Linked DNA regions of Homo sapiens: all the other regions are linked to region 1. Evidence: fine-mapped expression QTL. A gene starts in region 1. Each other region holds a variant in brackets. All regions are shown on one strand. Distances are from middle to middle.

Region 1 (8,884 bases):
GGTCCCTGGCTGCCCTCTGCTGGTACTCCCGGCCCCTTTCCCTCACCCAGGCCAAGACTAAGGGGCTGCAGAGCGGGGTGGACATTGGCGTCAAGTACTCGGAGAAGCAGGAGCGGAATTTCGACGATGCCACCATGAAGGCTGGCCAGTGCGTCATCGGGCTGCAGGTGGGCGACAGCTCCCCCAGCCCCAGGGACCACGGCATTGGGGGACCACGGTGTTGGGGGACAGCAGCATTGGGGGACAGCGGCATGGAGCCCTGTGGTCCCTCAATTTCAGGGAGGGACCGGAAGCTTGTTGGGTGCAGTCTGACCTCTCCCACGAACCTCCCTGCAGATGGGCACCAACAAATGCGCCAGCCAGTCGGGCATGACTGCCTACGGCACGAGAAGGCATCTCTATGACCCCAAGAACCATATCCTGCCCCCCATGGACCACTCGACCATCAGCCTCCAGATGGGCACGAACAAGTGTGCCAGCCAGGTGGGGCTCGCCCGGGTGCCCCCGACTCCTCTCCCTGCCCCTCTACACCCTGTGGTCTCGGCCCCTCCCTGGGGCCACCTCCAGCTTCTCTCCCCACTCTCAGTCTCAGCCCCTTCCCTAGACCACCTCCGGCTTCCCTCCCCGCTCTCTGTCTCCGCCTTGGATTTCAGCCTCTGTCATTTCCACCTGGCTGTGGGTCTCTAGGGAAGTTACTACCTCACCCTGTGTCATTTTCCCTTAAGGACTGCCCAAAGGTCCACCCAATTCTTTTTTTTTAATCTTTATTTATTTTATTTATGTATTTATTTTGAGATAGGATCTCACTCTGTTGTCCAGGCTGGAGTGCAGTGGCACGATCTCGGCTCACTGCAACCTCTGCCTCCCGGGTTCAAGAGATTCTCCTTCCTGCCTCAGCCTCCCGAGTAGCTGGGACTACAGGTGCATGCTGCCACACCCGGCCAATTTTTGTATTTTTAGTAGACATGGGGTTTCACCATGTTGCCCAGGCTGGTCTCGAACTCCTGAGCTCAGGCAATCCACCCGCCTTGACCTCCCAAACTGCTAGGGTTACAGGTGTGAGCCACCGCACCCGGCCACACCCAGCTAATTTTTGTATTTTTAGTAGAGACGGGGTTTCACTGTGTTGGTCAGGCTAGTCTTGAACTCCTGACCTCAGGTGATCCTCCCACCTCAGCCTCCCGAGTAGCTGAGACTACAGGCGCCCGCCACCACGCCCGGCTAATTTTTGTATTTTTAGTAGATATGGGGTTTCACCGTGTTGGCCAGGCTGGTCTTGAACTTCTGACCTCAGGTGATCCTCCCACCTCAGCCTCCCGAGTAGCTGGGATTACAGGCATGTGCCACCACGCCCAGCTAATTTTGTATTTTTGGGAGAGACAGGGTTTCACCGTGTTGGCCAGGCTGGACTGGAACTCCTGACCTCAGGTGATCCTCCCACCTTGGCCTCCCAAAGTGCTGGGATTACAGGCGTGAGCCAGTGCACCCAGTGAAGGTCCCCTCTTCTCTCCACCATGACCTGCTCCACCCCTCCTTCCTCTCCAGGTGGGCATGACGGCTCCCGGGACCCGGCGGCACATCTATGATACCAAGCTGGGAACCGACAAGTGTGACAACTCCTCCATGTCCCTGCAGATGGGCTACACGCAGGGCGCCAACCAGAGCGGCCAGGTCTTCGGCCTGGGCCGGCAGATATATGACCCCAAGTACTGCCCGCAAGGCACAGTGGCCGATGGGGCTCCCTCGGGCACCGGCGACTGCCCGGACCCGGGGGAGGTCCCTGAATATCCCCCTTACTACCAGGAGGAGGCCGGCTACTGAGGCTCCCAGCACGCTCTCTCCCCACATCGTCTGCCCATCTGGGTTTTTGGGTTTTTCTGTGTTTTCATCTTTTTTTTTTTTTTCTTAACCCGTTCAGTGCTGCCAGTCAACCAAGGGTCTGTGAGTGTCAGCGTGGGATCAGGCAGCAGAGCTTTTTTCCCCTTTGCCTTGATCCTTCGCAAGGCTGAGCCACTGGGCTGTGGGGGAAGGGGTCAAGGCCATATCCCAATACGTGTAGGGCGAGGGTCCCTGCTGGCACATTCAGGCTGTGCTGGGAAGAAGAGACCTGGGCTTGGAAGGAACCGGTCCCCGACGGTTTCTGCTTGCCTCGCCTCTTCCCCCTTTTGTCAGCTGAGCAGTTTGTGGTTTCTATGCCCGCAAGTTTCAGGAAGTATTCACAAAAGAAAAATACATTTTTTCCCCCAGGGGTGGGGCAAGGACAGTGGAGAGAGTGCTAGGAAATGAGTCCCCTGGGAAAGGGGACCGGGCCGTGATGTTAAATATCTCCGGCTCCCAAGTGACTGGATTTGCCTAGGACCTTCAGACCAACAGACTTCAGACCCTCAGACCTGCCCCGGGGCCAGGTGGAGAAAGTGAGGGCCGTACAAGGAAGTGAAATTCTGAGTTGTTGGGGCTAAGCCTGACCCCCTCTCCATGCTCCCCGCCCCAACCCACTCTGGCCTCAGTAGATTTTTTTTTCAGTTGTGGTTGTTGCCCAGGCTGGAGTGCAGTGGCGCCATCTTGGCTCACTGCACCTCCACCTTCCGGGCTCAAGCGATTCTCCAGCCTCAGCCTCCTGAGTAGCTAGGACTGCAGGTGCTCCACCACGCCCGGCTAATTTTTGTATTTTTAGTAGAGATGGGGTTTCCCCATGTTGGCCAGGCTGGTCTCGAACTCCTGGCCTCAGGTGTGATCCGCCCGCCTCCGCCTCCCCAAGCGCTGAGATTACAGGTGTGAGCCACCGTGCCCAGCCCCTCAGTAGGTTTTAAGGAGCCCCCAGCCCTCCTCCCTTCTGGGCCCGACCAGCTTATACTGCTCCATCTTCCCCGGCCACATGCCCCGCCAAGTACTGCACAGGGACCCCCCACCCAGGGGACCTGCTCCGTGAGATAATGTGAAATACGACTGTGGACCAAACGCAATAAAACCTCTGTTTGTACGAAGAGAAGGTGGCCAAGAGAGTTGGCGTCGATGAGGGCGTGCTTTGCTTTGATGCTTTTGTGGGGAGAGAGGAGGTCTTGGGGGATGGGGGGATCAAGGGGAAAATGTCCACCTCACCATTGGGAGGAGGAGCAAAAGCTGAAGCCACAGGTGAGTCTGGGTGGAATGAATGATTTGAAGGGCCGGGACTTGGGGTAGAGGGAGAGGCTGGGCTTCCTGGCCATTTGGAGAAGAGGCAGTTCCCTCAAATGCCCCCCATGCGCTTTGGCTGCACTCTACCTTACAGCGCAAGTCTCGTGGCCTCAGCCTGGATGTCTCCCCGTTGGCGAACTCCTATTTATCCTCAAAGCCCCAACGGCAATGCCACCTCCTGCCGCGGGAGCCGTCCCCACGCCTCTCACTCTCCCCAGCGCCTTCAAAGCTGTGGACCCACACGCTCCCATTTCAGCTTCACCTCCAGCCTGAAGAGTTTATTTCAACTCTTCTTCCAGAGTGGGAAACGGGTTTTCCTCAAAATCAGGGTAGCCACTATAATCGGAGACTCTAGAATGTTGGCCCCCTCCCCCTCCTGCCATCCTCTGCAGAAGCCGAGGAGCGTTCGTGGAATGAATGAATGAACGAATGATCTAGTGGAACCCCTACTTTACAGACGGACGAGTGTAGTCCCAGAGTCTGGACTAAACTAGAGGGAGCCTGGCCAGCCCCGGGGACAGCGGGGACAGAGGGAACTCCTGCAATTCGGAGCTGCGGTATTGCAGCCGGTTATACAACGTGGGGAGGCAGCCTGGCTCCCCAAAGACAGCGCAGCCTCGTTCCCGGAGGGCGGCCTGCCTGGGACCTGCCGGGCACTCCGCCACCCTACGGTGATGCAGCAAGAGCCGCGCGGTCCCTTTAAGAAACCCGGCTAGGCGAGGCCCTTCTGTGATCCCGTCTCCTCCCTTGGCCCGCGCAGCTCCGACGGAGCAGGCCAGTGAGTGACGGGCAGGTCGCCCAATAGCAGCGTGCAGAGGCAGGGGCGTGCCCCGGCGCTGCTACCTGCGCGGGCAAGCTCAGCGCACTTGGCTTAAGGGGCGGCGCGCTCCCTGCCTGCTGCTGGGCGGAGGGAAGGCGGCAAGAGCTGCGGAGCCCCTGGAAGGTGAGAAGGACTCGGAGAGGGAAGAAGGCCCGAGACTCGAGAATGCGGGGTTGGGGCCGGGAGGGATGCAAGTTCCCTGGGAATTAGGGGGTCCAGCCTCTGACCTCCTTCCGGTGAATGTTGACGACGGCTGAATTGATCACTGATTCTCAAGGGGGGCATCGGACATCTGGGACCCTTAAGAGGGCCTTTGCCGATCACACACCTGCAGCCCCCTGCCCGTTAGAACTCCTGCACTCCCCCTTGCCCCGTCTTACAAATGGAGAAACTGAGCCCACTCCCCCAGATCCTAAGTCCCGCTTGATGTAAAGGAAAGAACCCTGGCGTAAGGGTCTGGGTCTGAGGTCCCAGTTCCGGCCTGGTCACCTTTAGCAACTTCCTGCCCCTCTGTCAGCGTCAGATTCTCCATCTGTGTCAGAGGTGGACCGGCCCAAGGAAAATAGATCAGGAATCGCTGACTCCAGGAGTCTCTATCCCAGCCCCTTCGCCTGACTCTTTCTCTGGCTCCCGCGGTCCCTCTGAGCGATTAATGCTACATAAGGTGTGGGCAGAGCTGGGGTCGTGCCTCCAGCTGGGCAACTGCCTGTCTCTCTGGGTGCCTGGGTTTGCTTTCTTGGGCCTCGGTTTCCACTTCTGTAGAGTGGGGTGATAGTCCAGCACTTCCCCTGGGCGTGTGAAATGTCCAGCACTGCCAATATTCGTTGCTGTTATCTTCGGAGAACAGTGAGGGGAAAGGAATCCTTGCCTGGGCTGGGCCAGGCAGGAGGCTGGGGGTCAGGACCTGGAAGAGGCTTCCAGGTGAGGCTTGGGGTGGAGCCTGGTGACGAAAGCGTTAAGCCCAAACTCGGTCCCTGGAGGATTAGAGGATGATCTTTAAGTCCCCAGCTGTCAGCCCTGCTCAGAGCGACAGTCCTGGCAGCCAATCAGATGCGAGGACGGCTGCGGGTTGCGCTCCCATTGGTTTACTCCACCCCTGGGGTAGCGGAGCCTCTTTATCGAGTGACTACTGTTTGCCTCGCTCTAATCAGAGCTTCCAGGAACCCTGCGCTGTGGGATAAAGGAATGAGGTTCAGAAAGGGGCAGGGAGTTGCCCGCAGCCGCACCGCACGTCTTCAGCCCGACCGTTGTCCTGACCTCTCTGTCCCGTCCCCTGCCCAGTCTCACCATGGCCTTCTGGACACAGCTGATGCTGCTGCTCTGGAAGAATTTCATGTATCGCCGGAGACAGCCGGTAACGCCCCAGTGTGAGACCAGGGCCGGGTGGGCAGGCAGCCCCCACTGTCCCCCACCGTCTCCCACCTATTCTCCCCCAGGTCCAGCTCCTGGTCGAATTGCTGTGGCCTCTCTTCCTCTTCTTCATCCTGGTGGCTGTTCGCCACTCCCACCCGCCCCTGGAGCACCATGAATGTGAGCCCCCCCAGGGACCAGGCACTTTGTGTGTGTAGGGGAAGGCAGATGGCTCACCCGTGCACAGGAATCCCCCGTGCATGTCAGGGAGCCTTCACCAGGCCGCCAATACATGGCATGGGAGTGAGCTCTCCATCGCTGGAGGCATGCAAGCGGTGCCGGGCGACCCGATGGGGGTGGAGTCAGGCAGAGTCCACAGGGCCTCAGCACCAGGCGTCTCCCCGCAGGCCACTTCCCAAACAAGCCACTGCCATCGGCGGGCACCGTGCCCTGGCTCCAGGGTCTCATCTGTAATGTGAACAACACCTGCTTTCCGCAGCTGACACCGGGCGAGGAGCCCGGGCGCCTGAGCAACTTCAACGACTCCCTGTGAGCCAGAGGCAGTGGGTGCGGCCGGCCTGCAAACTCGGGGCTGCAGTGCCGGCCGGAACCCCGCCTCCTGCCCTCTCTCTGTCCCCAGGGTCTCCCGGCTGCTAGCCGATGCCCGCACTGTGCTGGGAGGGGCCAGTGCCCACAGGACGCTGGCTGGCCTAGGGAAGCTGATCGCCACGCTGAGGGCTGCACGCAGCACGGGTGAGGAGGCCGGGGGGCCTCTGGCAGGGCTGAGCTCTGAGCCTCAACTTGCCGGGCCGTGAAATGGGCACAGGGTGGGGGTGGGTGCCTCAGACCAACGTCCCCCCAGCCCCATGCTCCCGTGCGCTCCTCCCCCAGCCCAGCCTCAACCAACCAAGCAGTCTCCACTGGAACCACCCATGCTGGATGTCGCGGAGCTGCTGACGTCACTGCTGCGCACGGTAGGGTGTCGGGGCGGGACCGCGCTGACTTCCTGGGACACTGCACTGGGGATGTCCTGGCACTGCCCCACCCCGGGCCAAGGACCTCCCGTTCCAGGCATCCAGGCTGTCCCTGGTCTCTGCGGTGATGCTGCTTGTCCGTCTGGGCCCCCAGACAGAGTGTGTCTGACCCAGTGAGGAAGACTCGTCTGTGAGATCTCCAATGAGTCCCTTTGCCTCTCAGAGCCTCAGTTTCCCTATTTGTAAAGTGGGGGCTATGATAGTATGGTCTGCCTGGGAACTGGCCAGAGCGCTGGACCCCTAGTGAGTGTTCAAAATCATTGTCCCCCTTGTGGTCTTTCTCCCCAGGAATCCCTGGGGTTGGCACTGGGCCAAGCCCAGGAGCCCTTGCACAGCTTGTTGGAGGCCGCTGAGGACCTGGCCCAGGAGGTACGAGGCCCCACTCATCCTCAACCCCCATGGAGGCAACGTTGGCAGGCAGCCTGCGCCGGGAGGGTCTGGGGCAGCCCGGGCACTTCCCTTGGGTGGGTTTTCAGGAGGATTAGACAGCGAGAGGGAGAGGCTGCCCCTGGCCCAGTGCCCTGCCCTGGTTAGGGCTTGGAGGTGGGATCATTGCCAGCTCCGTCTGGTAACCTCTCTCTAGCTCCTGGCGCTGCGCAGCCTGGTGGAGCTTCGGGCACTGCTGCAGAGACCCCGAGGGACCAGCGGCCCCCTGGAGTTGCTGTCAGAGGCCCTCTGCAGTGTCAGGGGACCTAGCAGCACAGTGGGCCCCTCCCTCAACTGGTACGAGGCTAGTGACCTGATGGAGCTGGTGGGGCAGGAGCCAGAATCCGCCCTGCCAGACAGCAGCCTGAGTGAGTGACTGACCTCGGTTTCCCCTCTTGGGAAGTGGAACTCTGGGCAGGGGGGCAGGGCCTCATGGCACCCCCATCCCAGGCCCCGCCTGCTCGGAGCTGATTGGAGCCCTGGACAGCCACCCGCTGTCCCGCCTGCTCTGGAGACGCCTGAAGCCTCTGATCCTCGGGAAGCTACTCTTTGCACCAGATACACCTTTTACCCGGAAGCTCATGGCCCAGGTGGGGGCAGCCTGGATGCTGGGGTGGGAGGGTGGTGGCCAGAGCCCATCCAGTACCCTCAGTCCAGGTGGGCCAGGGCCAGGCCGGAGGGTCACGGAAACTATTTGAAGAAGTAGGAGTTAGCCGATGGAGGGGGATCAGCTTGTGCGGAGGATCAGAGGCACACGCAGGAGCAAGGCAGAGGGGGCAGGGGGTGGGCAGGGGTCCTCAGAGGAGGAGAGGGTCATCAGTGGAGGGGGTGCTGTCCACAGGTGAACCGGACCTTCGAGGAGCTCACCCTGCTGAGGGATGTCCGGGAGGTGTGGGAGATGCTGGGACCCCGGATCTTCACCTTCATGAACGACAGTTCCAATGTGGCCATGCTGCAGGTGTGCGGGGGTGCTGGGGAGGTGGGATGTGGCTCCCCGGTGAGGAGGGTAGACAGGCCCGGTGGATGGGAAGGTGGGCTCCGTGCAGACCCCCACTTTTTTTTTTTTTTTTTTGAGATGGAGTCTCGCTCTGTCGCCCAAGCTGGAATGCAGTGGCGTGATCTCGACTCACTGCAACCTCCACCTCCCGGGTTCAAGCGATTCTCCTGTCTCACCCTCTGAGTAGCTGGGACTACAGGCGCCCACCACCACGCCCGGATGATTTTTTTTTTTTATTTTTAGTAGAGACGGGGTTTAACCATGTTAGCCAGGATGGTCTCGATCTCCTGACCTCGTGATCCACCCGCCTCGGCCTCCCAAAGTGCTGGGATTACAGGCGTGAACTACCACGTCCTGCTTTTTTTTTTTTTTTTTTTTTTTTTAAGAGATGGAGTCTCACTCTGTTGCCCAGGCTGGACTGCAGTGGCGAGATCTTGGCTCACTGCAACCTCCGCCTCCTGGATTCAAGCAATTCTCCTGCTTCAGCCTCACAAGTAACTGGGATTACAGGCATGCGCCACCACTCCCGGCTACTTTTTGTATTTTTAGTAGAGATGGGCTTTCACCATGTTGGCCAGGCTGGTCTCGAACTCCTGACCTCAGGTGATCCACCCGCCTCGCCTCCCAAAGTGCTGGGATTACAGGCATGAGCCACTGTGCCCGACCCAGACTCTCACTTTCACCTGCGCCCCCCAGCGGCTCCTGCAGATGCAGGATGAAGGAAGAAGGCAGCCCAGACCTGGAGGCCGGGACCACATGGAGGCCCTGCGATCCTTTCTGGACCCTGGGAGCGGTGGCTACAGCTGGCAGGACGCACACGCTGATGTGGGGCACCTGGTGGGCACGCTGGGCCGAGTGACGGAGGTGAGGGCCTGTCCACCTGCGGGGTCTGTTTCAGTGGGGAGGGCAGGTCCCATCCTAGTGTTCCCACCCTGGTGTTCCCAGGGGGAGGCGGGCCCGGCCCTAGTAAGAGCCTGGGATTTGTAGAGATCTCAGGAGGGAGCCGGCCGTGGGCCTACGAGGGGAAAACATGGCCCAGCCCCGAGGTCCAGGGGGAGGAGCGGAGTGGTCTAGGAGGCAGGC
Region 2 (10,205 bases), 68 kb before region 1:
ATCCCAGCACTTTGGGAGACCGAGGTGGGTGGATCACTTGAGGTCAGGAGTTCGAGATCAGCCTGGGCAACATGGTGAAACTCCATCTCTACTAAAAATACAACAAATTAGCCGGGCGTGGCAGCGCACCCCTGTAGTCCCAGCTACTTGGGAGGCTGAGGCAGGAGAATCACATGAACTGGGAGATGGAGGTTGCAGTGACCCGAGATAACGCCACTGCACTCCAGCCTGGGCAACAATAGCAAAACTCCATCTCAAAAAATAAAAAATAATAAAGTAAACTGGCTGGGCACCGTGGCTCATGCCTATAATCCCAGCACTTTGGGAGGCTGAAATGGGAGGATTGCTTGAGCCCAGGAATTTGAGATCAGCCTGAGCAACACAGTGAGATGCCATCTCTACAAAAGTTAGCTGGGCGTGGTGACACGCTCCTGTAGCCCCAGCTACTCGGGAGGCTGAGATGGGAGGATCACTTGAGCCCAGGAAGTCGAGGCTGCAGTGAGCCATGATTGCACCACTGCATTCCAGCCTGGGTGACAGAGCAAGACCTGGTCTCAAAAACAAGGTAAAAAAAAACAAAGTGGAGTATGGACAAATACACTTATTCAACAAATAAATATTGAGCACCTACTGTGTGCACTGGTGACAGCATGAATGTGACAGACACCGTCTACACCTTGTAAAGCTAAAATCTAGTTGGCGAGACAGACAGAAAACAGAACATGTCACAGGTGTCTTTATGATCAGAAATGGCAGTTTTGGTCGGGCGCGGTGGCCCACGCCTGTAATCCCAGCACTTTGGGAGGCCGAGGCGGGCAGATCACCTGAGGCCAGGACTTCAAGACCAGCCTGGCCAACATGGTGAAACCCCGTCTCTACTAAAAATACAAAAATTAGCCGGGTGTGCTGGTGTGTACCCATAGTCCCAGCTACTCAGGAGGCTGAGGCAGGAGAATTGCTTGAACCCTGGAGGTGGAGGTTGCAGTGAGCCGAGATCGCACCACTGCACTCCAGCCTGGGTGACAGAGTGAGACTCCGTCTCAAAAAAAAAAAAAAAGAAAGAAACTCATTTGTTCGGCTGGGCACAGTGGCTCATGCCTATAATCCCAGCACTTTGGGAGGCCGAGGCGGGTGGATCACGAGGTCAAGAGATCGAGACCATCCTGGCCAACATGGTGAAACCCCATCTCTACTAAAAATACAAAAAATTAGCCAGGCGTGGTGGCGGGCGCCTGTAGTCCCAGCTACTGGGAGGCTGAGGCAGGAGAATGGCGTGAACCCAGGAGGCAGAGCTTGCAGTGAGCTGAGATCGCGCCACTGCACTCCAGCCTGGGCAACAGAGCAAGACTCTGTCTCAAAAAAAAAAAGAAAAAAAGAAACTAATTTGTTCTTCTTCCCACAGCCTCCGAAAGCCGCCAGGACTCTGCTGTGAACCTGACGGGCACCAACGGCAGCAACAGCATCAGCATGTCGGTGGAGATCAACGGCATCATGTACACAGGTAGGACCCCTGAGGCCACGCCCTGCCTGGACCTCGCCTCTCCCGCCGCCGTGAACTCAGGACCCTGAGTTGCGCCTGGTCCCACCTGCTTGAACCTAGGTGTGCGGGCGAGCAGGGCACGGCCAGGGGCTTTGCAGGACAAACAGTCAAGACTGATGGAGAGGATACCATCGTTCACCCGGTACCACGCTCAGCCCAGAGGGGGTCGTCCACAGATACATATTCAGTGTGACGTTGGATGGTTCACATTCCTAGTTTTTTGTTTTAATGAGACGGAGTCTTGCACAGACATGCACCAGCACACCTGGTTAATTTTTAAATTTTTTGTTGCTCTTTAAATTTTAAATTGCTTTGTTGCTCAGACCGGTCTTGAACTCTGGGCTCACGCAATCTTCCTGCCTCGGCGTCCCAAAGTGCTGGGATTACAGGCGTGAGCCACCGCACCCAGCCAATCCCAGCATTTTCGGAGGCTGAGGAGCAAAGAATGTATAAGCCCAGGGGTTAGAGACTTTCAGGCTGCAGCAAGCTGTGATGACGCCACTGCACTCCAGCCTGGGCCACAGACCGAGACCCTGTCTCTTGAAAAAAAATTTAATGAATGTATTTTTTATTTTTTTTAATTTGTAATTTGTAATTTTTGTGGGTACATAGTAGGTATATATATTTATGGGTTTTATGAGATGTTTTATACTGGCATCCAATGCCTAATAATCACATCAGGGTAAATGAGGTATCCAAAAAATTGAATCTAGGCTGGGTGCAGTGGCTCATGGCTATAGTTCCAGCACTTCGGGAGGTTAACACGGGAGGATCACTTGAGCCCAGGAGTTCAAGACCAGTCTGGGCAACATAGTGAGACCCCATCTCTCCTAAAAATATAAAAATCAGCAGGGCGTGGTGGCAGGCGCCCATAGTCCCAGCTACTCGGGAGGCTGAGTAGGGAGGATCACTTGAGCCCAGGAGGTGGAGGTTGCAGTGAGTCAAGATCACACCATTGCACTCCAGCCTGGGTGAAAGAGTGAGATCCCGTCCTTCTCTCTCTCTATATATCTATATATAGATATATCGATAGATATAGCTGTAGCTATACATAGATATATATAGATTAGATATAGATTTATATGTATCTATAAATACATATATACTTTTATATCTATATCTACATAGATATATATATATATAGTTGTTTTTTTTTTCTTTTGAGAGGGAGTCTTCCCTCTGTCACCCAGGCTGGAGTGCAGTGGCACGATCTTGACTCACTGCAACCTGTGCCTCCTGGGTTCGAGCGATTCTCCTGCCTCAGCCTCCCCAAGTAGCTGGGACTACAGGCGTGTGTCACCACACCCAGCTAATTTTTTTTTGTATTTTTAGTAGAGATGAGGTTTCACCATGTTGGCCAGGCTGGTCTTGGACTCTTGACCTCAGGTGATCCGCCTGCCTCGGCCTCCCAAAGTGCTGGGATTACAGGCATGAACCACCGCGCCCACCCTATATATACATATTTTTTTAAATAAAATGAATTAAAAAGTTGCCGGGCACAGTAGGTCACACCTGTAATCCCAGCAGTTTGGGAGGCTGATGTGGGTGGGTCACAAGGTCAGGAGTTCAAGACCAGCCTGATCAACATGGTGAAACCCCATCTTCCCTAAAAATACAAGAATTAGCGAGGTGTGCTGGTGTGTGCCTATAATCCCAGCTGCTTAGGAGGCTGAGGCAGGAGAATTGCTTGAACCCGGGAGGCGAAGGTTGCAGTGAGCCGAGATCGCGCCACCGCACTCCAGCCTGTGCAATGGAGCAAGACTTCGTCTCAGAGGAAGAAAAAAAAAAGAATTAAAAAATTTAATTAAAAAAGTGGAGTCAGTGCCAGGGGCAGTGGCCCACGCCTGTAATCCCAACACTTTGGGAGGCTAAGGAGAGAGGTTTGCTTGAGGCCAGCCTGGGCAACACAGAAGACCCCATCTCTACAAAAGAACATAAGTAAATGAATAGTTTTTCTTTTTTTTTTTTTTTTTTTTTTTTTTTGAGACAGAGTCTCACTCTGTTGCCCAGGCTGGAGTGCAATGGCATGATCTCAGCTCCTGCAACCTCCGCCTCCTGAGTAGCTGGGATTACAGGTGCATGCCACCAGGCCCGGCTAATTTTTGTATTTTTAGATGATACGGGGTTTCACCATGTTGGTCAGGCTGGTCTCGAACTCCTGACTTCGTGATCTGCTGGTCTTGGCCTCCCAAAGTGCTGGGATTACAGGCATTAGCCACCACACCCGGCGGTAAATGAATAGTTTTTCTTAAAGTGGAGTCAGGCCGATGGTTCATAGTGGCCACCAGGTGGCGCTGTCGACACAGAGCAGCCTTGTTGCAGGCCCCCGCCCGGCTGTGGTCAGAGGCTGAGCTGAAGGTCAGTGGTGTCCTCACAGGTCCACAAATGGATTTTTGAGGGGTCCGTGCCCTCCGGAAATCAGATGTAAAACGTGTACATTCATATTGAATCTTACAGGGGAGAAGGCCAACTGTGTGCTAGGGGTCTCGCAACCCCACATCAACGAACCATGGGCATCAGGGTTCTCCCTGCAAGAGCTGTGTGCACGCTGATGTGCATGTGTGGATTAAACACACGTGTGTGCTCACGTGCATCCATATATATGCACATGTGTGTGATGAAGGAGTGAGCAGACACAGTGGGGAAGTTTAAGCTGGGCTCACGTCTGTAATCCCAGCACTTTGGGAGTCAGAGGCAGGAGGATTGTTTTAGGCCAGGAACTTGAGACCAGCCTGGGCAACATATTGAGAGCCCATCTCTACAAAAAATAAAAAATTGCTAAAATATTGCCAGCCACAGTGGCTCATGCCTGTCATCCCAGCACTCTGGGAGGCCAAGGTGGGTGGATCACCTGAGGTCAGGAGTTGGAGACCAGCCTGGCCAACATGGTGAAACTCCGTCTGTACTAAAAATAAAAAATTGGCTGGTGTAGTGGCAGGCGCCTGTAGTTAGTCCCAGCTACTCAGGAGGGTGAGACAGGAAAACTGCTTGAACCCAGGAGGTGGAGGTTGCAGTGAGCCAATATCGCACCACTGCACTCCAGCCTGCGCGACAGAGCGAGACACCATCTCAAAAAAAAACAAAAAAATAAAAAATTAGCCAGACATGGTGGCACGCCCCTGTGGTCTCAGCTACTCGGGAGGCTGAGCTGGGAGGATCACTTGAGCCCATGAGGTTGAGGCTGCAGTGAGCTCTGATGCCACCACTGCACTCTAGCCTGGGGGACAGAGTGAGAGAGAAGTTTATTCCCCGGAGCACCCCATTGGGTCTCCCTTGTGGCCCGCCTCGCATCTTCTTAAACTCTGCATGGCATATGTCTTCTGTTCTTGCCTTAGGAGTTCTGTTTGCTCAGCCGCCGGCCCCCACGCCAACCTCTGCTCCCAACAAAGGAGGCGGCGGCGGCGGCGGCAGCAGCAGCAACGCAGGCGGCCGGGGAGGAAACACCGGAACCAGCGGCGGCCAGGCTGGGCCAGCGGGGCTGTCCACACCCTCCACATCTACCTCAAATAACTCGTTGCCTTAACCGCATCACTCCCCACCCGCCACCCACCCTGGAGCCCGCCGGCCTGGGCAGGGGGTCCAGGTGGGCCACACAGGGGCCAGGATGGCGGAAGATACGGGTGGGGAGGGAAGATATCCAGAAAGGAGCCACAGCTGACGCCAAAAAGAAAAGAAAAAAGATATATATATATATATATATATATACACGTATATATATAAAGA[G/A]AATTTAATAAAACAGGGGAAAACCAAGGAACACTTGAATTTCTCAGGTTTTGGACATTCAGAGAGATGAATTGTGAGAACAGCAAAGAAATCCATCAGAAAAACAGAAAGAGGCAGACGTTTCCCAGGGCGTTCAGGCAGCCCTGATGGACCGAAGGCTCTGGTGTCTGGTTTGGCCCCACAGCAGTGTGGGCCGATCCTGTTTACCTCATACATCCCTGCACTGTGTGTTTTCATTTTTGTCTGCTTTAGTTCTCTTTTATTTTCTATTCACCACACACTCACCACTCCCAGCTTCTCGTGTCCAGTGAAACCCCTGAACCAAGATCACTGAATTTTTGTTTTTTTCTTGTTGCTTTGGGAAATTTTTTTTTCTCTGTAGGGTTTTTAAGAGGTTTCGGGGGTTTTGTTGTGTAAATATTCTATTTTATTCTTGGGGGGATCAAACCTTAGGAAAAGGATATCTATATATCTATATAGCTATATATTTGTGTTCCTTCAGGGAAACTGGTCTTGAAAAAGCAAGAAAAAAAAGCAAAAAAAAAAAAAAAAAAAAAAAAAAAAAACTCACCTTTTTATTTTTCCCATGACCAATTTGGGTCCCTTTGTCCATTTCTGGGGGTGCGTTGGGCAGCTGTGAGCCCAGCACATCGGATCCCTGGGGCTAGAGCCGCGGAGCCAATGAACTCAGGTGCTATGGGCCGGGCTGGGGCAGAGGGTGCATGCTGGGGTCCCACCGGCCAGGGGCCCCTGACAGTGAATTGCTGACTGTGATATTCCACGATGCTTTTGCTTGTGCCGTGCTTGTCTGCTGGGCTCTCGAGTCAGGGGCCTGGAAATTTTTTTTTTTTTTTTTTTTTGAGACGGAGTTTTGCTCTTGTCGCCCAGGCTGGAGTGAGTGCAATGGTGCGATCTTGGCTCACTGCAACCTGCACCTCCCAGGTGCAAGCGATTCTCCTGCCTCAGCCTCCGGAGTAGCTGGGATTACAGGCGCCCGCCACCACGCCCAGTTAATTTTTGTATTTTTAGTAGAGATGGGGGTTTTGCCATGTTGGTCAGGCTGATCTCGAACTCCTGACCTCAGGTGATCTGCCCGCCTTGGCCTCCCAAAGTGCTGGGATTACAGGCATGAGCCGCCACGCTGGCCCGGTCTGGAAATCTTATCTAAAAAGTAGCAAGTGCTGGAAAAAGGGCCTGGGGGGCGGGGGTGGTTCTTGTCGAAGCCCCCAGGCTCCTGTCTCAGGGATGAATGTGGCGTCTCATTGGGATTCTTCTCTTGCCCGAAAGGGCTGCTTTTGAGGACTATCAATACTGGGGAGTGGGGGTGAAGCCGGACCTCACTCAGGGTGAGGATTTCAGGGCCCCGGCATCCTGAACACCCCCCACACCCCAACATTCTCCTCGCTCTGTCCCTTCCTCTTCTCCCAACCCCTTTTGTGCTGGGGCTGCGAGCTCCCCGAGTTCTGCGGTGACTAAATCGAGGCCGAGAAGGGAGGCTGCCCCCCACCACCCTGTGGGTCAGTACCCCTCCCCCTGGCTTGGAGAAAGTGGGGTCACCGCAGCTGAGCTGGGGGGTTATTTTGGCTGGAGCTGCTGGAGCAGAAAGGCTGGGTCTGAAATGCCCAGCAGGGTCTGGGGACTTCGTTGGACCCGCGTGGTGTTGGGCGGGGCTGTCGTGTCCTACACGGGAGCTCTGGGCTTTCATTTCTCTTGGGGTGCAGTGGGGATTAACTCAGCTATTCCCAGGGTAAGCCTGGGTCTCTAATTGGGCCCTGGGAGCCCTGTTAGGCCACCGGCATGGGGGCTTGGTGAGGAAGGGGACTCCCCAGCTCCCCCCACTCCCAACCACCTCCCCATTGCCTTGGAGACCCCTGGGGAGGGGGCTGGGGGGCTTCTGAGCCCCTGAGTCTAGGTTCACTTTCCCGTCGGGCTGTGGGAGGGGACTGTCACTTTCCTGTGTCTTTGGGGAGGGGACCCCCACTTCCTTCTCGGATCTCAGGGCCGTGGACACACACCCCCTTTCCAGGAGGGGGTGGTGGGCGTCTAGGTTTTCCTTGTCCCTTCCTGGGGCCAGCACCGTAGCAGCACAATCACCCCGGGAAGGGGGTGTCTGTTTGCCTCCAGACACAATCGGGCCCCACTCGCAGAACCACCTGGACTCTGTCCGTGTCTGTCCCCCGGCCTCCAGGGCTCCTCTCCCGGGACCCCCGTCCCACGCCTGGGCCCCGCGCCGGGGGAAGCGCCTGCTGCCTATCTCTGTCTACCTCAGGTCTGACTTTTGATGCCAAAATCTGAGCCCCTGGGGTGCCTCTCCCCCGCCTCCCGTGCACCAGGGTCTGCAGCAGCCACTGGGGCCTGGCTGCCTGCTGCATCTGGCGGCCCTGGACCCCTGGGGCCCCCGTGCACCTGCCCACCTCGGAGCCTGGGGAGGGGCCGTGCAGGGTCGAGGGCTGGGTCGTCTCCCTCGGGCTGCGTGTGTGTGTCGGGAATCCTGCGTGTCGTGTCTGTGGGCGATCCGGCCTCCCGGCGGTGGGTGGACCTGGATTCTAACTCAGAGGACTTGAGCCTGCTGTTAACTCCGATGATTGTAGGGACAGGCGGGGTGGGTGGGGGGTGGGCGCGAGGCTGGGTCCCGGCCCAGGAGAAGGAAGTCGCTGAAGGCAGTGGCCATGCTGGCCGTGGAAATGGGAGGCGGTTGCAGAGGGTCTATGGGGCCCGGTCCTGGATACTCGGCAGGAAGCCGTGTCTGCAGAGGCTCCTCCCTGCCTCAGGTGGCCCCGTTCAACCCCAGCCGTGCCCATCTCCTGCCACCGCCTGTCGGTGGGGGTTTAAATTCGGTGTGGCTTTCTGGGGTGCAGCTCAGCACCCCCCCTTATGCAGACTGGGAGGGGGTCGGGCAGTCCCCTCAGCCACGAGGACCCTGGATGGGTTCTAGTTCACTTGGGACCGTGGGGCCTGGCTGCGTACTGAGTGGGTGCCCCACAGTCAAGGCCAACGGGGGCTCCCCCTGCTCTGAGATGTTGGGAGAAAGGCGGCTTCTGGAACCTTCCGTGGGACCCGTAAGTGGCTGTCCAGAAAGGCGGGAGGGTGGGCACGGGGCACGGGGGGCAGCTGGGGTCGTTGTTAAGGGTCACGCATCTGTACAGTTGAATTTCCTTTCTCTTATCATGTTTTACCCACCTTGTCCCTTTTTTCCCCAATTGTGCTTTTGCATTTTTTTCCTTGGCAAATGTAAACTCAGCCTTTCATTCATGACGTGTGAAATTTCAGTTTCTCTGGAGTTTGTCAGACGGCGTGGGAACCACGCCTGAAACTCAGGTAATAGGAGGAAAAAAAAAAAAACTTAAAAAAATTTTTAAAAAACATAAAACTACTCTCTACCTCTGGCTGGGCCCAGCCTGTCTCGCCCTGGCCGCGGCAGGGTGGCCTGTAACAATTTCAGTTTTCGCAGAACATTCAGGTATTAAAAGGAAAAAAAAAAAAAAAGACAAAAAGACCAAAAAAAAAAAAAAGTGTGATTTTGAAATTTAAAAGAACACTGAAAGTTTACATTTTATAGTAACATTATTATGCAGATTGTATTTAAACTTCAGAAATATTTAAGACGATTGTAACCCTGTAAAGCTGATGAGATATTAAAACGAGACAAAACACTTCTGACTTTTAACAGAAAAGTGTCCTGTGGTGTTTTTTTTCTTTTGGCGTCTCCCCAACCTCCAGCTCCACCCTACACCCCTGCCCAGCACAGCCAGGGGTGAGTGGAAGGGGGTGCTCTATCCCCCTCTGCCCTGCATCGCTCTAGGTCTGGTTCCGGGCGGCAGAGACAGCTACAAAAGCGGGGGTCTGGCCAGGTGCGGTGGCTCACGCCTGTTATCCCAGCACTTTGGGAGGTCTAGGAGGGCGGAATCACCTGAGTTCGGGAGTTTGAGACCAGCCTGACCAACATGGTGAAACCCCATCTCTACTAAAAATACAAAATTATCCGGGCGTGGTGGCGCGTGCCTGTAATCCCAGCTACTCCGGAGGCTGAGGCAGGAGAATTACTTGAACCCAGGAGGCGGAGGTTGCAGTGAGCCGAGATTGCGCCACTGCACTCCAGCCTCGGCGACAAGAGGGAAACTCCATCAAAAAAAAAAAAAAAAAAAAAAGCAGGGGTCCTCAGCCAGGGTCTGTGCCCCCAGGGGGACCCTGGTCCATGTCTGGGGGCATTTGTGGTTGTCACGCCTGGGGGGGCGCTCCTGGTGTGGAGTGGGTGGAGTCCTGGGATGCTGCTCGGCACCCTGAGTGCCCAGGACGGCCCCACCGCAGAGAACAATCTGGCGCCCAGCATCCACACTGCAGGAGTTGGGAAATTCTGCCTTCATTATTTAAGGTGGGGTAAAAACAGTTCTCCCTGCCCACAGCAGACACCAGGATAAGCTCCTGACAGGGCAGACGGTGTAAACCCGGGGGAACCCAGCTCCTGGGACTCGCCTCCTCTCTCCCTCCCTACTCAGGGCATGGATTTCAGTGTGTGCAGCCTCCTGGGACCCCAGCAGGGCCGAGGATCATGGGATGCAGAGTCTGTAGGGGGTCCATGGAATCCCCTAACCCAGAGGGCCTTAACCAGGGTGATTCCGCCCCCAGGGGACCCTGGTCCATGTCTGGGGACATCTGTGGTTGTCCCATCTGGGGGGAGCTCCTGACATGGAGTGGGTGAAGTCCAGGGACGCTGCTCGGCACCCTGAGTGCCCAGGACGTCCCCACCCCAGAGAAGGATCCAACCGCAAGGTCCACAGGGCCGAGGGGAGCTCCTGGAGGCCGCTCTGGGCACCTCTGTGCCTCGCTGAGAGCCCGACACCAATCCCGTTTTAGGGATTTGGGATGACAGGTGTGGCAGGGCCAGTGTGCGCACCCCCAGCCACCTGCCCACGAGCCTGACCCCTCGCCTCCTGCCTCAACA
Region 3 (10,205 bases), 370 kb before region 1:
GCCAGGTGTGCCCATTTCCCAGCATAAAAAATTCGTTTTTGAGACAGCGTCTTGCTTGTCACCCAGGCTGGAGTGCACTGGCACCATCACGGCTCACCGCAGCCTCCACCTCCCAGGCTCAAGCGCTCCTCCCACCACCTCAGCCCCCGCCAGTAGCTGGGACTCCAGGAGTGCAACAACACACCCCACTAATTGTTTTAGTCTTCTGTAGAGACAGGGTCCTGCCACGTACGGAGAAGTTCTGACACTGCCATGCTGTCTACGGGCGCCTTGTTGCGTCCTGCTCCAAAGGCACAAGCAGATGCCCTTGGGATCACCCGCGGGGTGGACACGGGCAGGCCCCCGCAGCCCTCTCTGCAGTTATTTGCTCTTAAGGAATCTACCAACGTCCATGATTAAATATTTGTCAATCACTGTTCCATGCTGGCTCCCTGGCCAGCCTGTAAATTCTGTGAGGGCAAAGACCACAGCGGCCTGTCACCACAGAGTTCCTTTCACTACAGGAAGGCCCTCCCCAGGCCCAGTGACAGTCGGAGGAGGTCAAGGTCCTCCGTGTCCAAGGCCACGGGGCGAGGAAGTGGCTCCACCACACCAGGATCCAGTCCTGTGCGGGCTCTAGGAGCAGCTAAATGTGCAGCCGAGTCAAGGCAGTGTCGGCCCCCCACAGCCACCACTCCAGGCTTCCCAGGGGCTTCCCAGGCCTGTCCCAGGGCTCAAGGGGCTGCAAGGGGCTGCCCTGCAACTCACCCAGGCTGGCGGGCTGTCAGGCAACCAGCCTCTCCTGCCACGGCCAGTGGGGACAGAAAGCTGGAAGAGGCAAGAGCGAGACCCCTGGGAGACAGAGGAGTAAGGCAAGGCTCAGTCTCAGCTCCCCAACCTTCGCCCCACACCCGAGATTTCACTTTATTTGTTCCTCCTGCTGGGGAGGGGAAGCCCTGTGGCTTCAGTAGAGAGGAAACCACACCTCTCTCTTTCCACTCCTGGGCCTGGCCCCGCTCTCCCGCCATGCCCCAACTCTAGCACTCGCTCCTCCTCTGTGACCCAGAGACAGGCGGCTTCTCCTGACTCCCTCCAGCCCCTTCCTGGGTCTCTACTCCCGGGGAACTGCACTGCTTCTGGGGGGCTTGGACTTCTCTTACGGGTCAAAGCGTAGCAACAGCCGGGCGGCTACGTACACAGCACAGTAAATCCTCAATGCCTGCAGCCTCTTCCCCTGGGCACAGGGTGGGGAGTCCAGACCCCTCCACCTCCTGCGGCTGCTCCCCTCAAGCTGGCCAAGCGGCTCCCGACTGAGCCGGCTCTGCCACTTTCCCGCTGAGCCACCACGCGCCTCAGTTTCCCCATCTATAAAGCACGGGTGGCTCGACTAAATCACCACTTTGCACGTCAGCCTGGCGAAGGGCAACACGGGTTAAAAATGCAGACCACCGCCGGGCACGGTGGCTCACACCTGTAATCCCAGCGTTTTGGGAGGCTGAGCCAGAAGAATCGCTTGAGCCCAGGAGTTCAAGACCAGCCTGGGCAACACAGGGAGACCCCATTCCTAAAAATAATATTAGAAATGCAGACTGCTGAGCGCATTCCACACCTACTGACTCCGAAACCCTGGAAAAGGGGCCTGGAAATAGCACCTTCAACGAGCGCTGCTCCCACCTCCCCCAAGGTGACATCAGGTCCGCGTGGGAAACACTGCCCTAAACGAGCAGGAAGTAGCACTCGGCACGCCCAGGCCCAGGGTCCTCTTCGGTGAGGGGCGGCTGTAAACACCTGGAGGAAGGGTGGGCTGCGCAGCCAAGCCCCGGGAGGGGAGGAACGCAGGCTCTGCTCACAAAGCCCCGCCGGCGGGCCGCGGTCGGACCCCGGGACAGTGCCTGGGGCGTTCCGGGCCTGGGCCTGCCTCCAAGGCGGCGGCCAGGGCTCCACGAGGCGAGCCTGCAGCGAGGCGCCGGCGCCCCCAACCACGCGCTCGGCGGGGGTCCCCTGGCGTTATTCTCGGGGTCCGAGCCCCGCCAGGCCCAGCCCCTGCCCCGCGCCGCGCCACCGGGCAATACCCTCTCTCTGCTCGCCGGGCCTCAGTTTCTCCGTTTGCAAAACCAGGCTCACCGGGCTTAGGGATCCCACCTGGGATCCTCGCGGCCTCTCGGGTCGGGAACGCCGCGGATGTGGGGTCACCCGGCCGCGATCCCGCTGCGCCGCTCCGGCCAGGCCCTGCCTCCCGCCCGGGCCTCAGTCTCCCGCATGTACAGGACGGGGTTCGCGCGCGCACCGCCCGGGCTCCCCGCGGATTCAGCCTGGGCCGGCGCTGCCCCGAGCCTCAGTTTTCCCGTCGTGGTCAGCTCGCGCAAGAGGCGGGCGCAAGCGACCCCCACCCCGGCCCCGGCCTTGCCTCAGGCCTGCGGCGCAGACCCTGCCGCCCGCCGCCCCGGCCCGGGCCTCACCGGCAGGCGCGGGACGATCTCCACGGAGCAGCAGTGGCAGAAGTACCGTCCGGGATGCGGCGACGCCTCGGCCATGGCCGCCGCCACCTACTCCGCGCCGCCCGCCCCCCGCGCGGCACCCGCCGCCGGCCGTTTGCTGCTCCCTCGCCGGCCGACGCGCCCGCGCACGCTCACGCACGGCACGCACGGCACGCGGGGCGGAGCGGGGGCGCGGGAGCGGCGAAAGCTGCGTACTCGGCGGGCAGCGGCCCGGGCGACGGTGGCCGCTGAGAGACAAACTAGGCCCGGCCGTTGGGCGGGGCTCCAAGCGGGGGCGGGGCTTCCGGCGGGGGCGGGGCCAAAGCAGGCGGCGGAAGAGACGAGAAGCGGGGCGTGCGCGGGGCGGGGCCGAGGCCCTCCTCCCCTCCCGAAGCTGCCCAGGCCTTCGTGTCCCTCAGTGCTTCCCTACCTCATCGCCGTCTCCCCTCACGGTACTTCAGCCCACTGTCCCCACCGTTCCTGGGGCTCGCCAGGCGCCCTCTCCCCCGCCCGCTGCCCGGTGCAGCGCTCTCCCGACGCCCGCGTGGCTTTCTTCCAGGTCTTTGCTCAAATGTCAGCTTACAAGGTCTTCTCTGCTGCCCTCCTGCTCCGTGGCACTGATTCCCTCCCGATGCACTGTCAGGTCAGCTGCGCAGCAAAGGGATTTTTGGACCCGCAGCAGCGCCTGACACACAGCAGGCATTCCCTCAGCGCTGCGGAATACAGGCAGACCCGGGGCTCAGGGCGCTGTCTGGGCCTCACTGGGACCCGTGGGGTCAGACAGAGGCTGAGGTCTGTGGGTTGTGGCCTTGTTTCCAAGATGCTCCACGGGCTGACGGCCCAGGCGCCTCTCGGGTGCGGAGAAGGCAGGAAACCTAACCCCTGCTTCCAAATTTAATCAGTAGAAACGGTATCATCACCCAGCACAGGCCAGGATCATTTCTGAGGTTAGTTCTGGCCCAATCATGCATGCATTTCTTTTTTCTTTTTTTTTTTGAGACGGAGTCTCACTCTGTCACCCAGGCTGGGGTGCAATGGCCCGATCTCGGCTCACTGCAACCTCCGCCTGCCGAGGGTTCAAGCGATTCTCCCGCCTCAGCCTCTCGAGTAGCTAGGACTAGAGGCACCCGCCACCACACCGGCTAATTTTTGTATTTTTAGTAGAAACGGGGTTTCACTATATTTGGCCAGGCTGGTCTTGAACTCCTGACCTCGTGATCCGCCCGCCTCGGCCTCCCAAAGTGCTGGGATTACAGGCATGAGCCACCGCGCCCGGCCTCATGCGTGTATTTCTTTCTTCACTCAACACTCATTGAGCAACTACTGCACACCAGACCCTATGCTGAATGCACGCAGATACCCCCAGTCCCATGAGATTGGACAGGAGCGTGGAACTCAAGGGTGACTCTGGCTCTGCCTGGGGAAAGAGAGAGAGGGCTTCCGAGGGGTAAGGACATTGGAACCAGGGCTGAGGGATGAATAGGATTTGGTTGGAGTTGGACTTCCTGCAAAATGAGGCATTGGAGCGAGACTGTTGAGGAATTAAGAGTTGGAGCCTGTGCATTTAGATTTTTTGTTTGTTTGTTTGTTTTTTAGAGATGGAGTCTGGCTCTGTTGCCCAGGCTGCAGTGCAATGGCGCAATCTCGGTTCACTGTAACCTCCGCCTCCCGGGTTCAAGTGATTCTCCTGCCTCAGGCTCCCGAGTTGCTGGGATTACAGGCTGGGCACCACCACGCCCGCCTAATTTTTGTATTTTTAGTAGACGGGGTTTCACTATGTTGGCCAGGCTGGTCTCAAACTCCTGACCTCAGGTGATCCGCCCGCCTCGGCCTGCCATAGTGCTGGGATTACAGGCGTAAGCCACCGCGCCCGGCCTGCATTTAGGGTTTTGAATGTCCAGAGGTTGGGGACAGGGGCTTCAGCCTCCTTCCAGTCGTCTTTGCAGCAGCGCGAATCCAGTCATTCCTGCTCTGACCACCAGAGAGCGCACGGGCCCCGTCCCTGGGAATCCAGGAAAACCCCAGGCTGGGGAGGGGCGAGGCTTGCCAGACGCAGCCCCTGCACCAGCCTTCACGCTCCGCAAGTGCAGGAGGAGCAGCAGGCCTGGTTCAAACGACGCCAAACCACGAACTGGCTGTGTGTCCCTAGGCAAGTGGCCTAACCTCTGAGAAGGCGGCAGAACCTGACGGTTTTCCGTTGGCTCGGAGCAGACATGAGGACCGCTGGCACCTCCTCAGCCCTCTCTGTGCTCTGCTGCCT[G/A]CCCCGAGTCACCTGCCCCTCGCTGACCCCTCCCCAGCCTCACTGGCCCCCTTGGGTGGGCTAAGCAGGTTCCCACCTCTGGGCCTTGCAAGGCTGTGCCCTTCCCCAAGTCCCCTCTCCTTCCCCTGCTTTTTTTTTTTTTTTTTTTTTTTTTTGAGATGGAGTCTCACTCTGTTGCCCAGGCTGGAGTGCAATGGTGCGATCTCAGCTCACTGCAACCTCCGCCTCCAGGGGTCAAGCGATTCTCCTGCCTCAGCCTCCCGAGTAGCTGGGATCACAGGCATGCGCCACCACGCCCGGCTAATTTTTGTATTTTTAGTAGAGCTGGGGTTTCGCCATGTTGGCCAGGCTGGTCTCGAACTCCTGACCTCAGGTGATCCGCCCACCTCGGCGTCCCAAAGTGCTGGGATGACAGGCGTGAGCCACCGCGCCCGGCCCTTTCCCCTGGTTTTTAGGAGGCTGCCCCATCCACCACTGCACCCCACTTCTCAGAGCCCCCTTTCCATCCCCCACAGCCATCCTCACATCTGTGGGTTATTAATGGCGTCTCCCCATATGTGAGGCCAATACCCAGCGCACCAGTAGGTGTTCAGTAGATTCCCAAATGCACCAACAGTTGCCGAGTGTCTACTGTGTGCTGGGCTCAAGCAGGTGCTGGAAACACAGTGGGAATGAGAAGGAACGTAGGGATTTTGTATCAAACTAAGCAGGGCGAGGTGGCTCACGCCTGAGACCAGGAGTTCAAAACCATCCTGAGCAACATAGTGAGACCCTGTCTCTACAAAAATAGAATTAGGCCGGGGACAGTGGCTCATGCCTGTAATCCCAGCACCTTGAGAGGCTGAGGCAGGAGGATCACTTGAGTCCAGGAGTTGAAGACCAGCCTGGGCTACATGGTGAAACCGTGTCTCTACTAAAAATACAAAAATTAGCCAGGTGTGGTGGCGGGCACCTGTGATCCCACCTACTCAGGAGGCTGAGACAGAAGGATCACTTGAGCAGGAGGCAGAGGTTGCAGTGAGCTGAGATCGGACCACTGCACTCCAGCCTGGGCCACAGATGGAGACCCCATCTTTTTTGTTTTGTTTTGTTTTGTTTTGTTTTGTTTGAGATGGGTCTCCCTCTGCCGCCCAGGCTGGAGTGCAGTGGCATGATCTGGGCTCACTGCAAATTCTGCCTCCTAGGATCAAGCGATTATCCTGGCTCAGCCTCCCAAGTAGCTGGGATTACAGGCATGTGCCACCACGCCCGGCTAATTTTTGTCCTTCTAGTAGAGACGGAGTTTCTCCATGTTAAGTAGGCTGGTCTCCAACTCCTGACCTCAGGTGATCCGCCCACCTCAGCCTCCCAAAGTGCTGGGATCACAGGCGTGAGGCTAATCGTTTTAAATTTTTATTTTGTAGAGATAGGATCTGGCTATGTTGCCCAGAGTGATCTCCAACTCCTGGGCTCACGGGATCCTCCCACCTTGGCCTCCCAAAGTGTGGGGATCACAGGTGTGAGCCAGAGTGCCCGGCCACCCCTTTATCCCAAACACACCAAAAAGCAGGCTGCTCTTCCCTGAAGGCAGTAGCACATTGATCAAATCGGCCAGTGGGCACTGACACTGCTGCACACAAATGCACACACTTGCACCCTGCCCCAGGCCCCACCGGCCACCCTGGTTCCACAGACGGCACCGTTTCTCCCATTTCCTCTCACCAGGGACCTCGACAGGTGTGGGCTTGGTTCCGTGAGCTCTCTTAGCCCCTTTTTCAATTCAGGATCCCGTCCCCGTGAACCCTGGGGGCCTCGGCAAACATGAGACGAGAGGACTCCTAAAGGAATGACACGCGCCACTCCCTCCGGGGCAGAGAGGTGTGTTGACAGCTCATTCTCACGTCCCAGGCAGACCAAGCCCAGGTGGACCACGTCCCAGGCAGACCAAGCCCAGGTGGACCACGTCCCAGGCAGACCAAGCCCAGGCGGACCACGTCCCAGGCGGACCACGTCCCAGGCGGACCACGTCCCAGGCGGACCAAGCCCAGGCGGACCACGTCCCAGGCGGACCACGTCCCAGGCGGACCAAGCCCAGGTGGACCACGTCCCAGGCGGACCACGTCCCAGGCGGACCAAGCCCAGGTGGACCACGTCCCAGGCGGACCATGTCCCAGGCAGACCACGTCCCAGGCAGACCAAGCCCAGGCGGACCACGTCCCAGGCAGACCACGTCCCAGGCGGACCAAGCCCAGGTGGACCACGTCCCAGGCAGACCAAGCCCAGGCAGACCACGTCCCAGGTAGACCTAGTGGTTGTGTATTCACTTCTCCCAACCCCCCTGGGAAGAAATAACTGCAGCTGGCCCCATTGCACCAATGAGGAAACTGAGGCCCAGGGAGGAAGCCGATTGCCTGAGGCGGCAGCTTTGGGACTGGACTGTGGCTGCCTCCTGAGGAAGGAAACAGTTCCTCCCTCCACCCTCATCCTGGCAGGGGTTGGGCCACCGTTGCTTCATCAAGTGTCGTGGAGCCTCCGCTCTGTGCCAGGAGCGGGGCCTGTGCCACAAACGTCTGCTGAAACCAGCCATCCACCCAACAGTATCGAGCACCATGATCGGAAGAGTAAAGGCCCCAAACTGGGCCAGGGGCGGTGGCTCATTCCCGTAATCCCAGCACTTTGGAAGGCTGAGGCGGGTGGATCATTTGAGGTCAGGAGTTCGAGGCTAGTCTGGCCAAAATGGTGAAACCCATCTCTACTAACAAAAAAAAAAAAAAAAAAAAAAAAATGGCCGGGTGCAGTGGCTCATGCCTGTAATCCCAGCACTTTGGAAGGCCGAGGTGGGTGGATCATCTGAAGTTGGGACTTCGAGACCAGCCTGACCAACATGGAGAAACCCTGTCTCTACTAAAAATACAAAGTTAACCAGGCATGGTAGCAGGCATCTGTAATCCCAGCTACTCGGGAGGCTGAGGCAGGGGAATCGCTTGAATCTGGGAGGCAGAAGTTGCAGTGAGCCAAGATCTTGCCATTTCACTCCTGCCTAGGCAACAAGAGCAAAACTCCATCTTGTTAAAAAAAAAAAACTAGCCGGGCATGGTGGTGCCTGCCTGTAATCCCAGGTACTCGGGAGGCTGAGGCATGAAAATCACTTGAACCCGGGAGCAGAGGTTGCAGTAAGCTGAGATTGCACCACTCCACTCCAGCCTGAGAGACAGAGTGAGTGAGAGACTTCACCTCAAAATAAATAAATAAAGTCCCCAAACACACTTGATTTTAGCCCAGCAAGACTCATGTCTGTTGCGGGAAGTCAGGGACCCCGAACGGAGGGACCGCCTGGAGCTGTGGCAGAGGAACATAAATTGTGAAGATTTCATTTTAATATGGACATTTATCAGTTCCCAAATTAATACTTTTATAATTTCTTACGCCTGTCTTACTCTCATCTCTTAATCCTGTTATCTTCGTAAGCTGAGGATGTATGTCACCTCAGGACCACCGTGATAATTGTGTTAACTGTACAAATTGATTGTAAAACGTGTGTTTGAACAATATGAAATCAGTGCACCTTGAGAAAAAACAGAATAACAGCGATTTTAGGGAACAAGGGAAGACAACCATAAGGTCTGACTGCCTGCAGGGTCAGGCAAAAAAAGCCATATTTTTCTTCTTGCAGAGAGCCTATAAAAGGACATGCAAGTAGGGAGGATATCGCTAAATTCTTTTCCTAGCAAGCAATATTAATATTAATACCCTGGGAAAGGAATGCATTCCTGGGGAGAGGTCTATAAACAGCTGCTCTGGGAATGTCTGTCTTACGTGGTTGAGATAAGGACTGAGATACGCCCTGATCTCCTGCAGTACCCTCAGGCTTACTACGGTGGGGAAAAACTCCACCCTGGTGAATTTGTGGTCAGACGTTTCCCTATTTTTTGTTCAAGATGTTTATCAAGATAATACGTGCACCGCTGAACATGGACCCTTATCAGTAGTTCTGTGTTGCCTTTTCTCCTGTTCCCTCAGAAGCAAGTGATCTTTGTTCTGTTTTTTGCCCTTTGAAGCATGAGCTCTACTCCATGTTCTCACACCCCCTCCCCTCTTGAAACCCTTAATAAAAAACTTGCTGGTTTAAGGCTCAGGGGGCAGCACGATCCTACCGACATGCGACGTCACCCCCCGGCGGCCCAGCTGTAAAATTCCTCTCTTTGTACTCTTCCTCTTTATTTCTCAGCCAGCCGACACTTATGGAAAATAGAAAGAATTTATATTGAAATATGGGGGGAATGGGTCCCCCCGATACATGTCAGATTTCTTTTATTTATTTATTTATTTATTTATTTATTTATTTATTGAGATGGAGTCTCACTCTGTCGCCCAGGCTGGAGTGCAGTGGTGCCATCTCGGCTCACTGCAAGCTCCGCCTCCCGGGTTCACGCCATTCTCCTGCCTCAGCCTCCCGAGTAGCTGGGACTACAGGCGCCCGCCACCATGCCCGGCTAATTTTTTGCATTTTTAGTAGAGACGGGGTTTCACCGTGTTAGCCAGGATGGTCACGATCTCCTGACCTCGTGATCCACCCGCCTCCACCTCCCGAAGTGCTGGGATTACAGGCGTGAGCCACCTCACCTGGCCTTATTTATTTATTTTTTTTGAGACGGGGGTCTCGCTCTGTTGTCCAGGCTGGAGTGCAGTGGTGCGAACTCGGCTCACCAAAACCTCTGCCCTCCAGGTTCGAGCAATTCTCCTGCCTGAGCCTCCTGAGTGGCTGGGACTACAGGCACCCGGCACCACACCCAGCTAATTTTTGTATTTTTAATAGAGATGGGGTTTCACCATGTTGGCCAGACTGGTCTCAAACTCCTGACCTTAAGTGATCTGCCTACCTCAGCCTCCCAAAGTGCAGGAATTACAGGCGTGAGCCACTGCGCCCAGCTGTTTTGTTTTTTGAGATGAAGTCTCACTGTCACCCAGGCTGGAGTGCAGTGGCGCGATCTTGGCTCACTGCAGCCTCCGCTTCCTGGGTTCAAGTGATTCTCCTGCTTCAGCTTCCCGAGTAGCTGGGATTACAGGAGTGTGCCACCTCGCCCGGCTAATTTTTTTTGTATTTTTAGTAGAGACGGGGTTTCACCATGTTGGCCAGGCTGGTCTCAAACTCCTGACCTCAAATGATCTGCCCGCCGCAGCCTCCCAAAGTGCTGGGATTACAGATGTGAGCCGTGGCACTTGGCCAGTGGGGTTGCTTTAGGGCCCAGCTCACACCGCACCCGGCTGATGGGGTTGTTTTAGGGCCCAGCTCACTTCCCAGTGTTCCCACACCGCCCACCAGGCCAGGCCTTCAGGCCTGAGCCATGTTATCAGCATCACAGGCTCCGGAGTCCAGCAAGTCTTTGCCTCCTGGAGCCCAGGGGTTGGCAAGTTCTAGCTCAGAGGCTGCAGACAATAGACAGTAAGCCAATGCCAAGTATCTTTGGGCTCAGGAAGGTGGGACCGGGTGTCCCTGACTGTTCTGTACC

Evidence for each region.
Region 2: its variant is fine-mapped to the expression of ABCA7 in whole blood (INTERVAL, PIP 0.93).
Region 3: its variant is fine-mapped to the expression of ABCA7 in prostate (GTEx, PIP 0.93).

The regions. Positions count from the first base shown.
Region 1 is chr19:1,036,080-1,044,963 of GRCh38, forward strand. ABCA7 (ATP binding cassette subfamily A member 7) reads left to right here and starts at 4,028. Exons shown (of 47, transcript NM_019112.4): 1 at 4,028-4,117; 2 at 5,146-5,348; 3 at 5,431-5,524; 4 at 5,752-5,893; 5 at 5,985-6,097; 6 at 6,236-6,318; 7 at 6,667-6,747; 8 at 6,962-7,172; 9 at 7,255-7,394; 10 at 7,646-7,762; 11 at 8,498-8,665. The coding sequence starts at 5,283. It overlaps CNN2 (calponin 2), which reads left to right. Exons shown (of 7, transcript NM_004368.4): 5 at 51-167; 6 at 337-483; 7 at 1,546-2,986. The coding sequence ends at 1,821. RefSeq lists enhancers at 2,034-2,593, 2,181-2,682, 2,683-3,182, 5,075-5,872 and a silencer at 5,024-5,163.
Region 2 is chr19:967,003-977,207 of GRCh38, forward strand. ARID3A (AT-rich interaction domain 3A) reads left to right here. Exons shown (of 9, transcript NM_005224.3): 8 at 1,403-1,501; 9 at 4,876-8,937. The coding sequence ends at 5,063. Among named protein-coding and RNA genes, the nearest start is that of WDR18, 12 kb to the right of the region's middle. The variant G/A (reference allele first, on the strand shown) is at 5,264.
Region 3 is chr19:660,609-670,813 of GRCh38, forward strand. RNF126 (ring finger protein 126) reads right to left here and starts at 2,606. Exons shown (of 9, transcript NM_194460.3): 1 at 2,439-2,606. The coding sequence starts at 2,513. RefSeq lists enhancers at 993-1,082, 1,223-1,282, 1,573-1,622 and silencers at 1,673-1,962, 2,453-2,932. The variant G/A (reference allele first, on the strand shown) is at 4,717.